Regions from separate parts of the Homo sapiens genome. Here region 2 is linked to region 1. Evidence: fine-mapped expression QTL. A gene starts in region 1. The other region holds a variant in brackets. All regions are shown on one strand. Distances are between the middles of the regions.

Region 1 (5,389 bases):
TTTAGGGGACCAAAAGTAAAATTTCAGTTTAAGTCATTTTAGGAATAAACCATGGAGCTATAAATCTTTTGGAGGAGTTATAGATTCAGTGTTAATGCTAGAGTATTGCAGTATATTAATACAACAGATAGTTCTGAAAAGTTGCTTTAGAAAAATGTTTCAGCTAAAGTGACCCAATACCAAATTCTGTACAGTTACCCTCTATTTTGTAAATGCATATGTTAATATCAAAGTATTTATATTGTGTAATTTCCTACCTTAGGTGCTTTTGTTTTTAATATAATGCTGTTTCAAGGTCGAATATGTACAGTAATAACTGTTACAAATTGATTACGAGAGATCACAATCATTGTACAAATCACAGGCTATGTCATTGTGTAGACAAAAATCACTGACCATGCATGCCAGAGGTGGATCATAAATAGTAACTCCTAAGACTAGAAATCTACTTGATATTTTTATGGGTTCATCTTTAAAAGTGACCTCGCTGAATAAAAGTTCAATATTTCTTAAAAGAAAGGTAAATCTAAAAACCGTCCAGAATTTTCGATCCTAGTCTAGTACCACTTACTTGGGAACAAATATAGAAGCACAGGCAACCCCGTCCGTTAATTTGGCTCCGTCATTGTGCAGACAAAAATCACTGACCATGCATGCCAGAGGTGGATCATAGTTAACTCGTTAAGACTAGAAATCTACTTGATAGTGATTTTTATGGGTTCATCTTTAAAAGTGACCTCGCTGAATAAAAGTTCAATATTTCTTAAAAGAAAGGTAAATCTAGAAAGCTGTCCAGAATTTTCAATCCTAGTCTAGTACCACTTACTTGGGAACAAATATAGAAACACAGGCAACCCCGTCCGTTAATTCTGATGTTGAACGTGTGGTTAGAGAGCACACTGCGATATGTTACAGGACCTGAGATAAAAAGCAAATTTGTAAAGTGTCTAAGTGTTGATGGAGAAAAACACATCTAGCATATACGGAAATTTTCTTTTGAGTTCTCTGTAGGATGATCACCAACTCAGTAGGTGAAGCCCTGCCCTCTAGTGGTTATGGGTGTGAGAGGACTTCTGTTCAACATTATATGTCTGGCTCACCACGGTTTATTAAAACCAATCGTTCATTAAAAAGCACTTATTAGGGGTCTGGGTAAGATGCCGAGCAAGTGAAATGTTTACGTGTGAAAAGGCATTGACACTGGACAAAGGTACAGCTGCTAAAAGAAGTGCTCGTTCATTGGCTTCGACAGCTGTACGACTGGTTTCTAATTGCTGTTCCAGCCTCTCCCCAGTTCCATATACCACAAACGAATGAAAAAGATTAGCTCTCCCTGGAGCTCTCTGAGGCTGAACCTTGCTCTCTCATTACACATGGTAACTAAGCACACCCCTTAAAGAATTTTGGGAAGTCGCCCCGCGATTACCGGCTCCCCCAAGAACCAAGCAGTCAGTGCAGGGTTTTGCAAGTGAGAGTGCGAGACTCGGGAGGCTGCTCACGGTGCTCCAGTCCCTGGCAGGAGCATGGACACCTCGCCCCTTCCTTCCGTGGGCCTCAACGTTGCCTGCTGAGATTGTGACTGCCACCCCGACGGGAGCAGCTTCCCCTACAGACTTTGTAGAGAGCGCTTAAACGCCTCGGGGACAGCGGCCATGACTCTCAGCTTGGGCCGACCCCGCGGCCGCCCCACGGGAATGCGTGGCCGACACGGGGCGTGGGCGAATCTCCGACCCTCGCGTTCAGGGGGTGCATATAAACGGGCGGACACCGTCCCTGGGGTAAGGGAGGCGCCAGCAAGAACAAGGCGGGCCACCAACCCCGAGCGACCTCCTACCGGACGGATCCAAACCCAAACATTGTCCATTCCGGGCCGAAGTCTCGGCCTTCACTTCACTTCCGCCTTCCCAGCCCGTGAACACGAATGCGCCTGCGCGCACCTCTCTCAGCGGAAGTAATAGTGACAAAGCTGGGTTCGCGGCTGGCCCAGGAGTGCGGGGCGCGACTGGGCGGCCGGCGGCGGGGAGGGGCGGAGCGCAGGAGTCGGAGGCGGGAGCAGACCAGCACGGCCTCGCGGAGCCGGCCCGGCGGACCGTGACGGGTCCCCTCACCTCCTCTTCTCTCCCCTCCCCGCCCGCCCTCTCTCCCTCCCTTCCTCCCTCCCGCTCGCTTCTTCTCACGCCGGGAGCAGGCTCCCGCCTCGCACCGCTGCCCCGCGAGCAGCTCCTCTTCTCCCGAGGCGCGCGGGGCGCCCCCGCGAGCCCCGCGGCTGAGACCCCGCAGCCTGGAGGAGGGCTGTCCGGGGCTTTGGGTGGGTACCAGTATTACCTCCTGCCCCCATTTCTAGAAACTTCCAGGTTCTGAAGGAAGGGGAGGTTCGGGTATCCCCTGGATGGGGGGGCATCTCTAGGGCGCCGCCCCGCTGGCGTGAGCTGGGGACGTTGCGGGCACACGACGGGGCGGGTGCGGGATCTTGGGGAGGGGGGCTCCCGAGATAGTGGCTGGGCGGGGAACTCCTTCCTCAGCCTCTCGTCAGCGCCGCTTCTCCTGGTTTCTCTTGCAGATGCTGCTGCTAGGGGTGGTGGGAGCAGCCGTGGGACGCGTGGCCGGGAGCGGGGGTGACAGCCTGGGATTCCGGGGGCTTCTCTTCCTTGTCCTCCTCCTCTCCTCTCTATTCCCAGTGTGGCCGTGGCTGACACTAAAGACTTTGTAGCCATCAACCCGAGTGCAGTTTCGATGGAAAATGAAGGTAAAGGCCCCTGGCCGACCGGTTGCAACGCGGAGTTGAGGGTGTGGTGGTTTGCTTTTAAGTTGTCTTTGTTTTTCCACCTTTTTATTTTCGTGAGCTTATTTATTTACTGTGTATGTGAAGTGTCCAAGGATTTGCTTACTTAGGGTATCCAGCTTTTATTTTGGTAACATGGGGCATTTGAGAGATTGAGGTTCTGTGGGTGACTGAGCTTGATTCAGCTTTCTTGAGGAATTCCTGCTCTCTTCAGCTTAGGGAATGAGAGGGAAGTTTTCATTTCAGATAGCGTCTGTGCATGTTTAAATAGCTATTTGAAAGGAATTACTCGAGGGGAAGTGGAAATGGGGGACAAGGGGATGGGGCTGCATCTCTGTATATTGGCGTTTCAAGCCTCGATGTGGTGTGTGGCAGGATTCATTTATAAGAAAGCAAGCCATGTTTTATTATGTCTAGCATTGGGGAAAAAACTCATTATTTTTCAATTCACAAAAAAAACCCAGTGAATTTAATGAAATGTTATGAGATGAGTGCTTTTCTTAAAGTTCCACCCTATTTCAAAACATCATTTAGGAGGCTGACAGCGGAACCTGTTTGTTCACTGTACACTTTGGACACATTAGATCGTCATTCACATGTTACATGATCCCTTTGGCCTCGTTAAAATATTTAATGCTTTTCCTACACAGCACTGATTATTTTTAAAATTGTTGAACAACTGTGAATAAGTGATTTTTTTTCCCCCTCCTGAAACAACACTTATTCTTTGGACTGACTTCTGACTTGTGCGTGATCATTTTTTTTTCTTCTGCCTTTAACCGGGCTGCAAAATACTATAAAAGATACTTAACAAATGACAGTTTTTTCCTCTGGTATAATTTGTTTTAAAAAATATGTGTCTGGTATAAAGGAGCTGCAGTCTTGCTGGCTGCTTCTAATTTGTTTTTCCATTGTTGAGAATGTAAGCTTGATTGTCTGACTAGGACTAGTAATTTTGAAATGGGTGTTTCTTATAGATGCAGTAATGTGTTTTGCTCTCTGAGACCTCTGGGCTATGTAGGGAATATGATGAGAGGCATGATTATATTGACAAATTTTACTCTGGATGGATAATTGGCGGAAGACATTTTCTGAAATACTAAAGTGTATAACTGCAGAGGAGTTATACTGTCTAATTGGGTCTTGAGAAACATTTGAAAGCAGTGATGTTTTTGGTGATAAGGAAAGTCACTTTTCTGAGCCTTTTTCCTCTCTTTTAAGTTTATTGATTTAAGAAAGGCAAATCCATTCTGCACATGAGACAAAGAATGTTAAATGCATTCATATACTTGTTTCTTGGTAGAAACATCTTAAATAACTTCTAACATTTAATGTATGTTTATGAGCTTGTTTTCAGAATGGTACCAGATTTAAGAGGGTAGCCTAAAGTAGGTGGATTCTTTCATGTTGCTTTTGTTTCTTGATCTCTCAGGAGGAAGAGCATGAGTAATAAAGCCGATTCTCATTATCTACTGAGGTGGGAGGGGGTGGTTGTGAGATAGGAGAATGGTGCCTACTTGTGTCTGTCTCTGTATTTTGTGGCCAAATATGAATTTTGTGGTTTCATAGTAAAAGATTATACAGTTCTTAAAAACGTGTGGGGTTTTCTGTCCCGTTATTCTTGACCATCAAGAGACCATTTTTGTCAGTTTCTCCCTATCGTCACATTTTTTTTTATATATAAACAGTTTGAAGAAGAGCCTGTATATAGCCTAGAAATTTTCAAAAGTGACTGACCATATTAAACTACATAGATTGATACCTGTGCCTTTTTATTGTTCACTTGCCTTTTTGTAGTTTTCATCCTTCTTTGATATAGTGTAGTATTAACAATTTGGAGGTGTGAAACAAAAATGGATTCAAGTCTTGACTAACTTGTCTTGAACCACTTAAAGCTGTGTGATTTTAAGTAAATTACGTCACCTTTCTGAGCCTGTATTTCTTCATCTATAAATTGGGATTGATAATCTTTAACTCACAGAATTGAGAGGATTAAATGAGAAACCCTGTATAAATTCTCTTGTGAGGTAGGAATGATAACGTTTAAGAGCTTGAGTTGTGGTGGAACCATGCAGACTGATTTGAATGCTGGATTCGTCGCTTACCATTTGGCTTTGTGCATATTAAAGTTTTCTGTGCTTCCGTTTCTTCATAAAATAAAGATAATGATAGAACCTACCTTATGAGGTTGTTGTAAACATTCAAACAGTATCTGGCACATAGTAAGTGCTCGGTAAATGTTAATTATAAATTGCCTAGCTGAATGTTTGATACATACTAATAGGCCACCTGGCATTAATATTGTCATGACAGTTAAATGTTGGAAGGGGGAACAGTAGTAGCCAAATGCTCAAAATGAAGTTGTCATTGTTAGTTGAGGGATAAGTGGAGTTAGGTAAGGAATTTTCTATGGCATTAGTGCTTTTAAGCCTACAGAAAAAGTTAGGGCTCTACCAAGAAGCCAGGGTCCAGTACAGAAAGAGACAGGTTTGGATTTGAAGCCCGACAAGTAATGTTTTCCTCTCCTGAAAAATCTGACAAGTTACTAGGCTTCTAAGCTTTCTCAGCCTCTAAGTTATCTCATCTGTAAATGAGATAATGCCCTCT
Region 2 (5,389 bases), 42 kb after region 1:
TAATTAACTTGGTGTGAATCTGGGCATTGGTATTGTTAAAAGTTTCTTATAGGATTCCGATGTGAAGAAGGATTGGGACTTGTTCCAGGGAATGGAACCATAAAGGGGCTTTGGAGGTGGTGGCATGTAACCTCAGAGCTATGGTATCTAAGGGCTGGGGCTTTCTGGTGGGATGGATTCTTTTTAGCCTAATTACTTTGCAACTTTGACAGTGATGTAACACTTTAGCAGAGGAAGAGATTCTAACATCAGAGTTTCAAGGAATAGAATGTCCAACTGGAAGAATTTGGGGTTGACTCTGGTGTGAGGTCATTTAAATGCTTTCTGATCAGGTTGATGCTATAGTCCTGTTTCTTTGATATGATTTGCTGTGGTAGATAGAAACCAGGAAAGCTAGCCTTGAGGAAAATCTTCAGTTTCTTTTGTGGAGAGGAGGGAATTTTTCTGTGATATGTGAGTCAACCACAGAATTGTAATCTACACCATTGTACTTGAGAAATGTTTGAATCTCAGTGTTCTATTCAGTATTTCGCCCAAATTTTTAGCTTAAAAATCATCTTCTCCTGCTTTTTCTAGCCTCAGTAGAAATTCAGAACAGCTGTATTTCTTAAATTAATATACCAAAAATTGCTGTATACTATAAGGAATTGGTTAATTCTTAGTTTTAAGTATTGCTATTTAATTTTTTTTTTCTGAAAAGGAACTGTTAAAAAGCTTTTAAATGTAGTTAAGTATAAACGCTTTTTTTGTTAATTGAAGAGATACATAAAATAAACTGAGTATAGACTTTTGTAATTTTCCAGTCATGCTCTTATGGTTTTTTTTTTTTAAAGCCTTTGCTGAGAGAACTGTCATGTACAAAACTGTGTTGAATTGCTGTTTGTTTTTACTTTCAGTTTAAAAATCCCCTTATTATGCTGCTTCTGGCTTCTGCAGTCATCAGTGTTTTAATGCATCAGTTTGATGATGCCGTCAGTATCACTGTGGTAAGAAAAAAATTACATATTTTTAATCTGTTGAGTAAGTGTATAAATTGGGATTGGTTTTTATTTTGGAAAATAAATTGAGAAGTGCTCTCAGATTTTTTTCAGTGTCCAAATTCTGCTTTTATTTTATTCTTTTTGTTGCGACAGTTTCTTGTTGTATTGCCCAGGCTAGAGTGCAGTGGTATAGTCATGACTCACTGCAGCCCCGAACTCCTGGGCTCAAGCTGTTTTCTGCCTCAGCATCCTGAGTAGTTGGGACTACAGGTGTATGCTAACACCCCCAGCAATTTTAAAATTTTTTTGTAAAGACAGGGTCTTGTTATGTTGCCCAGGCTGGTCTTAAACTCCTGGCTTCAAGTGATTCTCCCACCTTGACCTCCCCAAAGTGTCGAAATTACAGGTGTGAGCCACTGTGCCTGGCTCAAATTCTGCTTTTATTATAGTTACAGTAATTTTGAGTAATGTTCAAAAGTCCATGATTAGCACACATGAAAATTCTTTAACTGGTAATTTTCACAAATATGAAATTTTATAATTATCTGATTAAATTTTAAATTTATTTCACTTTGCAGTTGAGAATATATTTTGACTAGTTGTGAACTAAAGCCTGACATGTGAAATTAAAAATATTCCTTATAGTGCATGCTGTATTTACAGCATACATTTACTATATATGATTTTATTCTTTCCAGCTAGGTTATTCTAGCTTTCATTGAACTGTTTTCTCATCTTTTTCCTTCTTGCTCCATTTCATTTTTGTATAAAAAATTTGTAGCAAGTAAAAGCACTTATGCTTAAGAACACTGTAGATGTTATTGTAGAGATGCAGCTCTTGAACTATTGCTTGCAGTATCCCAGGTATCCCTGAGACCTGTTCAAGGGGTATGTGAGGTCACAACCATTTTAATAATACTAAAACATTATTTGTCTTTCAATTATAGACTTTTGGCATTAATGGCACAAAAACAATGGCAGGTGAAACTGTTAGAGCCTTAGCACAATTCAGAGTAATGGCACCCAACTTTGTTAACAGTCATTGTTTTCTTTCATGTTTCTTAAGAATGTTCTTGATAAAGCAGTAAAAATTAATTTTATTAAATCTGGACCCTTGAGTACATACCTTCATAATAATTTATGTAATGAAATGGGAAGTATGCATGAAACTCTTTTGTATATTGAAATACAATGGTTGTCTCAAGGAAGGGTGATGATTGTGAGGCAAACTAGCCTTGTACTTGAAAGACTGACTCATAGACAAACTATGGGTGTTAGGACTTGGGTAACCAGCAGATTCTTATTTTTGAAAGTGAATTAAATGAGCGAATCAGACCAAGGAAAGGCAACTGGCAGAATTTGTTGCTAATGATAAAATTCAGGTTTTCAAGCAATAATTAGGGTTTTGGAAAATTTGTATGCACTCTTATGGGCTGGATAGCATCCCAGTATTTAAGACTTTATTCCAATTAGATCAGTAGTGATTTCAACAAATGTGTGTTTTTTTTAAAAAAAAAATTGTTACGAAATGTGGTAACCTTGGGGAAGATTTGGGCAATCTTGGGGAAGATTTGAATAACCAAGTGAACCAATATTTCCCAGAAGACCAATGCGTGACATTACAAAATCTGAAATGGTAAAAGATCCATTCAAATGCAAGATAGGTCAATGGATTTCGATATAATAGATTATGAAAGGTGCATTGATACAGTTTTATATTCTACATTGCAGATTACCTTTAAGTAACTAGCACTTGAGTTTTGGTGTAGTAGCTAAGAAGAATATCCACAATCATCTGAAAAAGCTGTTAAAATACTCCTCCCTAGGCTGGGCATGGTGGCTCATGCCTGTAATCCCAGCACTTTGGGAGGCTGAGGCGGGTGGATCATGAGGTCAGGAGATTGAGACCATCCTGGCTAACA[T/C]GGTGAAACCCCGTCTCTACTAAAAATACAAAAAAAAAAATTAGCTGGGCGTGGTGGTGGGCACCTGTAGTCCCAGCTACTCGGGAGGCTGAGGCAGGAGAATGGCGTGAACCCCGGAGGCGGAGCTTGCAGTGAGCTGAGATCACGCCCCTGCACACCAGCCTGGGCAATAGAGCAAGACTCTGTCTCAAAAAAAAAAAAAAAAAAAACTCCTCCCTAAAAAAAATAAAAAAGAAAAAATGCTCCTCCCTTTTCCACCGTATCTGTATGGGGCTGGATTTTCTTCATACACTTTAGCCTGAACAATATGTTATAGTAAATGGAATACTAGCTTTCTAGAAAGTCATATATTAAAATATAAAAATTTAAAACACTGCTATTTTTCTCACAATTTTTTTGGAAAATTTATTTTTCATAAAGTTATTTGTGTTAGCATGTAATGAGGTTTAAAATTTTTTACATGAGTTGATGAGTAGAAATTAAAACTGACTAGTTGAAAAATTTGATATGGTAAATATCAGTATATATAACCCACTTAAAAGCTGGTCCTCAATTTGTGAGAGCATAAAAGGGCCCTGAGATCAAAAAGTTAGAGAAGCTGCCCTGGTAATGGCAAGCCACTGTAAACTGTTAGCTTCTTTCCCCACAGGCCTTAAGGTAAAGTTGTGATTTCTTTTCCAGCTGATCTCAGTGTTTAAAATCTGTTATTGTGGGACTGCAGATAGTTAGAAAAATAAAATACAGTTAACAGTTACTTCTCAAGTTAATGTCTGATTTAAAAGCCTGTTTCTTTTGTTTAGGCAATACTTATCGTTGTTACAGTTGCCTTTGTTCAGGTAAGTACTCTATTTTGCCAACATGAAAATGGTATGTTAATTGCTTAAAAATCAAGGTGTCTTGTGGTAGAACCTACCGTTATTGGGGGGTTGTAATGCCCATCAGAACAACTTATTCTTTGTTTTTCAAGTAATTTCAGATACAGACAACTCTTCAGGGAAGCTTGTGGTGTGGGACTAAGGAACTGCTTTGATTTAGGTAGTGAGATGAAGAAAATCTAGTTTTTTATTTGATAATGTTAAGGATAACTGAAGCAGATGGAAACAAAAAGCATAGTAATAGAAATAAAATCCAGCAGTAAACTTTTTTATTTTTTCAATTAAAAAATTGGACCAGAGTTTATAGTTTCATAACACTGTTATGTTTTAATGCCTACTAGAGCTAAGTCTAGATGAAACAAAAAAGTATAGAATTAAAAGGTCGATCTGTGATGTACCATTTGAAGAAAATTCCACAGGTTTCTGTGACTGATTCCCTTAGCCAAATGCTACACTTGTTTGCTGAATTTATCACTTAACCTTATTTTATTTGAGTCTGTTTTGAGGAATTAAAATGGTTCTACTCATTGTTGGCATGACCTCCTCTCCCCTCCCTTTAAAACAATTTCTCATTCCTCCACAAAAGGGGTGTTGTGATCTGAATCAAAGTAATTCAAACAGTAAATAAAACATATGTAAAGTAGCCCCTTTTAAAAATTACTATGAATAATGTGGAGATACTGTCAAGATTTCTATTAATAAGTACAGACAAATAAAAATGTAGGCTTAGTTTTATGTTTATTTAAATATCTGAAACTTCTGTAGATTTTAGAACAGTGTTTCACAATATCAGCAGATTTCCTTTTTAGCTAGAACATGGTTAACAAGAATAGAATTATTCTAGCTTAGAGAAAAATGTAATATTGTTGCATAAGCCTGAAGTTCGTGCTGTTTTGAATCTGAAGCCTATACTTTGAATAACTATGGTTGTTCTTACATCTACGATTTATTACGTGGGTATTTCTTGTCACTATCCCAGCCTCTTAAGGTAATCTCTAACCTAGTTGTTATTAGTTCTGTAGTAACCCAGTGTAGAAAGCCAGTTGGAATCAGATCATTTGCAGTAGGTTTGTGAGCTCCATTAGTAGACTATCAGGGTTCCGCTTTTAGGGGAATCTTCTTGCTTAGACAAATGTTGCCCATGGTCAGGTGGAGCTGGTTAGTCTAGCATAGGTCATGTCAGGCTAACCATTATTCAAGGCAGCTATTCATTCAGCCAAGTGAGTGATATGACCCACTGGACCACTAACTGGACCTTCTTGCGTCTTTAAGAATGTGTCAGATATGTGGAGTGCCCTACTTCAGAAGGATTCCTGCAAATAGTATCACTATGTATGGAAGACCTTAGTACCTTGTTCTCTTTGATCACTAGAAAGCCCATGTTTTCAAAAAACACCACAAAATTGTGATTTTAACATAAGTCAATATGGAATTTTACACAAGATAGTGTTGTTATACACATTAAATGCTATGGCTGAGACTATTAAATATGTTTATGATAGGTACATTTGATAGAAATCTCACAAAAGGATGAAAACTTTATAAAAAGCCTAGTTTCAAATTGCTAGGTCTGATTCTTACACACATGTGACCCATCACCAAATATGCCTGT

What was found.
Region 2: its variant is fine-mapped to the expression of ATP2C1 in whole blood (TOPMed, PIP above 0.99).

The regions. Positions count from the first base shown.
Region 1 is chr3:130,892,030-130,897,418 of GRCh38, forward strand. It overlaps ATP2C1 (ATPase secretory pathway Ca2+ transporting 1), which reads left to right and starts at 2,055. Exons shown (of 28, transcript NM_001378687.1): 1 at 2,055-2,308; 2 at 2,561-2,746. The coding sequence starts at 2,741. It overlaps LOC107986023 (a long non-coding RNA gene), which reads right to left and starts at 1,892. Exons shown (of 3, transcript XR_001740492.2): 1 at 827-1,892. RefSeq lists an enhancer at 1,610-1,829 and a silencer at 1,920-2,309.
Region 2 is chr3:130,933,726-130,939,114 of GRCh38, forward strand. It overlaps ATP2C1 (ATPase secretory pathway Ca2+ transporting 1), which reads left to right. Exons shown (of 28, transcript NM_001378687.1): 5 at 897-986; 6 at 3,703-3,738. Among named protein-coding and RNA genes, the nearest start is that of ATP2C1, 42 kb to the left of the region's middle. The variant T/C (reference allele first, on the strand shown) is at 2,903.